2 linked regions of the Homo sapiens genome follow. The protein of the gene in region 1 interacts with the protein of each later gene in a pairwise test. Each region holds a gene or a part of one and is shown on either strand. Other genes may lie near its edges.

Region 1 (3,179 bases):
TCACGCCTATAATCCCAGTGCTTTGAGAGGCTGAAGCAGGAGGATCACTTGAGGCCAGGAGTCTGAGACCAGCCTGGGTAACATAGCAAGACCTTGTCTCTACAAAAAATTAAAACAATTATCTAGGGGTGGTGGTACACACCTGTAGTACTAGCTACTTGAGCGGCTGAGGGAGGAGGATTGCTTGAGCCCAGGAGTTTGAGGTTATAGTGAGCTATGATAGTGCCACTGCACTCTAACCTGGGTGACAGGGGGGTACGACCCTGTCTCTAAAAAGGTGGAGAGGGGGACCATAGCCTGTAGTCTCATGGGCAGGTGAGACTTGTACATACATACACACATGCCTGCAAAAAATTCCTGACAGCTTTAAATAGAAGAGAGTGACTATGTGTGCATAATATCATTGCACATATTTAAATTTCTACATAGGTATATAGGAAAATTCTCTGATAATTGAAAGACCAAACTTGGATGAATTTATAAACACAAAGAAATATGAGAGGCTCCAAATAAATATGCAAAGAGTAAAGGGAATGTGATTTTCTGGAATTAAGATATATTATGAGGTGAGTCTGTGATTGGGGCATTGATACCAAGACATCCTAATTGTTCAATCATACGATGACAGAGACCACAGGGTGGAAAACCACGAGGTGAAGCTACAAATGGTGAAGATGAAGGAACGTTTTTTCAAGAAAAGAGTGGCATCAGGTGCTAACACACACACACACACACACACACACACCTTGTAATCAGGGTCCACAGATTTTATTGGTCTTTGTAGAGAACCTACTCATTTGAGACTTAATCTTGTTTATCAATTTCTGTAAGCCCCGTTTCATGTCTTTGTTTCTTAAACTGTAGATAAATGGGTTCAACACTGATGTCAACACAGTGTAGTTGATTGTTGCTATTCGGTCCTTGACAGTATAGCTGGACAAAGGCTGCAAATAGACATAGCTAATACTCCCATAAAACAGAATCACCACAGTGAGATGGGAGCTGCAGGTGGAGAAGGCTTTGTGTTTTCCAGCTGCTGAGGGAATCTTGAGAACAGCGATGAGAATTCTTAGATAAGAGATGATGATACAGACAAATGGAGCCATCACAGAGGCCAGCCCTTCTGTCATGGCCACAATTTCATTGACAAAGGTGGAGGAGCAGGACAGTTTCAGCACAGGGTTGACATCACAAAAAAAATGATGGATAACATTTGATGTACAAAAGGTGAGCCGATTCACCAGGAGGACATGTAGGAGAGAGTGGAAATAGGAGAAAGTGATGGGGAATGCTAGTAGCAACACACAGCATCTGCGGTTCATAACAGTGACATAATGGAATGGGTTACAAATGGCTACACAGCGGTTGATGGCCATAGCCGCCAGGAGATAACTATCTATGTTTCCAAAAACCAGGAAGAAATACATCTGTGCCAGACATTCAGCATAGGAAATGGTCTTTTTCTCTGATAAGAAGTTCACGAGCATCTTTGGGACTATGACTGTTGTGTAGCAAATATCAGCAAAGGACAAGATGCTTAGGAAAAAATACATAGGGTTTTGAAGTCGAGGATCAGAGTGGATAGCCAAGATGATGAGCAGATTTCCCATCAAAGTGACCAGGTATATGATAAGAAAGAGGGCAAAGAGTGGCCTCTGGTCTTCAGACCGAGAGGAGAGTCCCAAGAGAATAAATTCAGAGAGTCTTGTCAGGTTGGACATTCCCATGGACTTGTACTCACCTAAAGATAAGCAACACTGTCAATTAATGACATAATTCTTATGTCATCTACAACATGCATCTTTCCACGTTGTTCTTACACTGAGTAGTTATTAATAGAGCATTTACTCTGTAGTTTATTTTTCTTCCTGAGCATGGAGAATCAGAACTGAAAGTGTGTTTTCACTTTTTAAAAGATCTTTGAGGTAGATACCTGTCTTAATCAGTTCAGGTTGCTATAATAAATTACCATAGCCAGGTCAGATGCGGTGGCTCATGCCTGTAATCCCAGCACTTTGGGAGGCTGAGGTGGGTGGATCACTTGAGGTTAGGAGCTCGAGATCAGGCTGGACAACATGGTGAGATCCTGTCTGTACTAAAAATACAAAAAATTAGCCGGGCCTGGTGGTGCATGCCTGTAGTCCCAGCTACTAGGGAGGCTGAGGCAAGAGAATTGCTTGAACCTGGGAGGCAGAGGTTGCAGTGAGCCAAGATTGCACCACTGCACTCCAGCCGGGGTGACAGAGCGAGACTTGGTCTCAAAAAAACAAACAAACAAACAAATCATAGACTAGGTGGCTTAAACAACATTTACTTTTCACAGTTCACGAGGCTGGGAAGTCCAAGATCAAGTTGCCAACAGATCCAGTGTCTGCAGAGGGCTTGTTTCTTGGTTTTCAGAGGGCTGTCTTCTCCTTGTAGTCTTGCATGGCAGAAAGCAGGGGGAGGAAGCAAGCTTTTCTTATAAGGGCATTAATCACATCAGGAGGGCCCCAACCCTCATGACCTAAATTACCTGTCAAATATCCATCTCCAAATGCTATCACATTGGGGATTAAGTGACTTCTGGGGGGACATAAACATTTAACCCATAGCAAGATCTATAGAGAACAGATACAAGGAAAGAGAGAGACAGACAGACAGACAGAGAAAGAGAGAAAGAGATTGGGAGCGAATGGCTGATAAGTTTCTCCTCCTACTTACTCTGTGGCTGGTAATTACAGGAACCACAGATAAAGACTTTGAATCAAGTTCAGGCCATCTTCTGATTAAGGATTCTGAGTGGCTAAACCACATCTAGGTAACAAGATAGTTATCTCACCTAGCTTGTAATTGATGAATACCTTTTCTTTTAAGTCCAGATGTTTCTTTCCACATCATTTACAATGGAAGCAAGAAACTCACTTAGAGAACACTGAGTTGAATGTAAACAGTTACAGGGAAAAGAAACACGGGGAATGAGAGAGTGAGGGGGACAGAATACTTTTGCGAGAAAATTCTCTCCCAAGCTTTCCTACTCTCTGGCTGATAATCCATATTCTGAGGTCAGGGGAATGTAATTCTGGAGTTGGCTAGGGTAAAGGAAGATCAGACTTTAGAGTATAAATACAGATAATCTACACTTAGGGTGAACATAAATTCGCTCTCTTATTTAATGTCCAGTAAGGACTAATTATTTC
Region 2 (3,827 bases), on another chromosome or scaffold:
TCAAATAAGAGAATAGTAACAAGAAATTCTTGTCATTCTCATGTTTTCAGAGATACTCCAATTCTCCTCCTCCCTCTTAAAAACTTGATATATTTTAAAACATTCTAATAAAGTGCCTAAGAAATCGTTCAGGTTTGAAGTAGGGAGGGAAAAGCAAGGAAAACAAGATCTTGTTGTTAGGCTCTCCAAACTCAATTTCAGAGCAATCCTGATGAAAGTCACAAAAAGTCTACCTACCACTGTCATTCATATCTATTTTATGCATAGATTAGCAAAAAAAAAAAGTAAAAATAAGTTTGCTAATTTACTCTCTGTCCTAAGAAAAACGTGTTTTGGGGAGGAAAGGCTGAATGTAGGCTTCTTATTCATAAATAGCGGTGTAAAATTAAACTGGACCCAATGTTGTGCTAGAACCATTTTAATATAATTATACATATCTGCCAAATCCAGGAAGAAAAGGTTTATGCATATATAACTTTTCCATTTAACATCTGCAAGCATAAACGACAATGATCTCAGTTTAATAATTCATCAGGGTCAGAGCAATTGACCAATGTCTCTTTACTGCTAGGCTTACCAACAGTAAATTACAGATGAATTAGTGTCCTTTTGCTTCTCTTCTCTGACTCTCTTTGTCCAGAGACATTTTGTCGTAAAGTTTCAGTGCAGCTCACCTCCAGCCAAAGGTAATCTTTTTAGATCAGTACTCAGTTGCTCTGAATTTTGCTTATAATTATAACCTATTTAATCACAGAAGAACCCCTGCAGAGGTGGAGTTCAAGGTTGCATACAATAACAGGAGATCACAGTTTTGAAGTCTAGCACAGATTAAAAACCACAGATGTACCATTTATAAGACACACACTGATTGTCTCTTAAACTACATATTGACTCCTTATGAACATTATTTTTTAAATAAAGTAGTGCATCTAGGACAATCAGTCACACAATTCACACAGCCCTGAAAAGTTTTTTCAGTGCCAACTACCAGTTGGTCATGAAACGTGAATGAGCTTGAGACACTGTTCATTCCTAAGATTCAACCAAGGATTGGCTAAAACAATGGAACACCTCTGCTTAAGAAGGCTATGACCTTCCCTCCCTTCCTTCACAACTTAGTTTTGTTTGATTTTATTTTTGGTGGTGTTTGGTTGCACATGGCTAGAATGCTTTTGATCACTTTGCAAATCAGGATAACCAATGATCTAAAACTATGACAGGATCTTAAGCAGATTGGTTTGTCCATTTCATGTTGCTGGTTTGTAGGCCCCTCTAAGGCCCTTCGTTTTTCCTTCTATGCCTCTCGGAACTTTGATCAGATGAGTCTGAGCATCATCCCATCTAACTCTTTTAACCAATGCCTGGCTAAAACTGGAATGTCCAGCCCAGTATATTTAAAAATCACCCACAAAAAGAGGTTCTACAGGTCTTCACAAAACCTGGAATTTCCACGAGGATGTCTGATCTTTATAATCCAAGCAGTCAGCATTGAAGTTAAGCTTCCAGGAGGCAGTTTGGTCCTTATAATCCAAGCAATCAGTGGTTGAGTTAAAACCCAAGCTTGAAGCTCCATATCCCTGGGTGGAAAGAGAAGCTGGGGACTGATTGAGATGGCTGGTGACTGCATTGGTACCCATGGGACTGAGTGTGGCCCCTGGTCCGGGAAGCTGGTGATGCATAGGGGTCAAATATGATCCACAGTCCATGCCCCCAAAGTAGGAAGTTGAGCCAGCATATCCTTGACTATAACCTGAAGCCTGAGTATAGGTCATGGGATAGGACCTCTGCATGCAGGAAGAGGAGGTGGACAAGGGATCTGACAGTGGGGAGATGGAAGCTGGGCTCCAGATAGACACAGGAGCACTGCTGCTGGCAATGGTCGGGACTGAGGTGCTAGAGGGGGGAGTGAATTGGCCACTTGTTCCACTCTCTGAACTCACTTCCCGAGCTGGAGATGTCTTCTTTTTGGCAGGTCTCACTTTGTTTTGACCTCCATTCTGCTGTTGTTGCTGTTGTTGGCGGCACTTAGCTCTTCGATTCTTAAACCATACCTTGGAAGGGAAAGAAAATTCTTTAACTCGGTTTTGATAGTTCCTTAAGGACAAGAATGGCTCCCGTATTATAAATCTATCCTACATGGGCAGATCAGCTAAACACACAATTTCCCCTGCCACTGAAGACCTATTATGTGGTACTCTCATATAAACTCCTGGACTTGTAAGAAAGTTGGGGAGGCTCTGTCTAAAAACACTTGACACTGTCTTATTTCTTGCCCAGAATAACATTTAAGATAATCCCCCAAATCATATAGCTAAAAACTCTCCACATCACTTTCCTATCTTATTTCGCCTCTAACACACACATACACATAGACCCAGCTATATTTTGGAACACTCTCACAGAGGAATAGAATGTATCTCTGTCTTTTGGAGGGAAATACATGAGAAGTGAGAGAAAGCAATTCTGTTGTTACAGGCTAACAGGAACAGCCTAAATTCATTTACAGTTCATCTTCCAGGAAGCAACTGCTAATATAGAGGTTGGTTGGTTCCATCACCCTTCTGTCTCTCTTAGAAAGACTCACAGAACAAAGCTCCAAGGGGAAGACATGATCTTGTTGAAGAAAGAGGTCTGAAAGCCACTATTTGCTAAAAGCTTCTTTGTGGTAAAAGGAGTGACTTACATGCACTCTGCTTTGAGCTGGAGCACAGACCTGCTAGTCTCTGGGACTCGAGTCTGTGTTGTTAGAGTAGTGCCACTCAGCACATAGACTCAGTCTCCTGTGCTGTGTTTACTGACTTACCACTTCAACCCCCTGCTGCAATCTTGACAATTCTCTTTACCAGCCCTGTTCATGTTCTGCAATGAAGGAGCTATGATTGGTGTACGAGGGGGCTTAGAAGAGGAACTACTGGCATTTTCTGGAGGACAAATCCTTAGCTGAACTTTTGAATGAGCTCTCTGTATGGGTGCCGTAACTGTGGTAAAAGTGAGGCCACCAAGGCCAAGCTCAAGACCACCAACCATTTGGAGCCATTTGTTTTCTCCTAGTGAGGACTTTGGTTCAAGCCTTGCAAGTGCTAAAACTTCCTCTAACCTACTTTGAAAAAGCCCCTTTCCCAATTTGCAGCTGACACTGATGTCTGTCGCTTTCATAAACATATTCTAGCCGAAGGAGAGGCCCAGGTGTGTATGTGGTTTATGTGCTAAACACTTTGCAGAGAATTCTGTACAGGGCTCACTCACAAGGCAAGCTGGAGTTGACCTTCCCTCTCCAGTTTAAGGTCAAGTTTAGGGGAACTAAAACAAGAGGGGTGTCACTAGAGACATTATGTAGATATTTTATCTGTTAAATGGCTCAGAACTAGAAAATTCTCTTCAATCCCTAAGAAGTCAAGGAAAATACATTCTTTTTGTGTTGATTTATTTGGTAAAAGCACCAGCTGCGTCTATACCCTGACTCTGCCACCAAACTTAGTTATGACCTTGAGCAAGTCATTTACTCTATTTTTTCATCTGTAAAAATACTTGGACTGTCCAAGAGCTAAGCTGCTTTCACACGTACAAGTCCATGAGAATAGGAGAGGATTTCTATACAGAGGAAGGGAAGGGTTACAACACCACGTGACTACTCTTGAAACCTGCTCAAGGATGGGTCTCTCTCCACCAGCAACCCGGGCCTTGAAGACCCTTGCTTACGGGATTAAGTGGTGACGGGCAGGCAAAAAAGGGCAGAAGGAGAATAGTTTCCTGGCCCCTTAGTGAGTGAAGGAGAATTTCAAGCCTTCCTTCAGTCCTCTGAAAGACCTGGGGCTCTCCACAGTCCC

Evidence for each region.
Region 2: the proteins of OR1L3 (region 1) and OTX2 interact in binary tests that used the Homo sapiens proteins (3 or more experiments, as listed by UniProt).

Annotation. Positions count from the first base shown.
Region 1 is NC_000009.12:122,673,678-122,676,856, reverse strand, and holds OR1L3 (olfactory receptor 1L3), read right to left. Parts: upstream 1,728-3,179; coding exon 753-1,727; downstream 1-752. UniProt on the Homo sapiens protein: Odorant receptor.
Region 2 is NC_000014.9:56,800,305-56,804,131, forward strand, and holds part of OTX2 (homeobox protein OTX2), read right to left. Parts: intron 2,052-3,827; coding exon 1,431-2,051; 3' UTR 1-1,430. UniProt on the Homo sapiens protein: Transcription factor probably involved in the development of the brain and the sense organs. Can bind to the bicoid/BCD target sequence (BTS): 5'-TCTAATCCC-3'.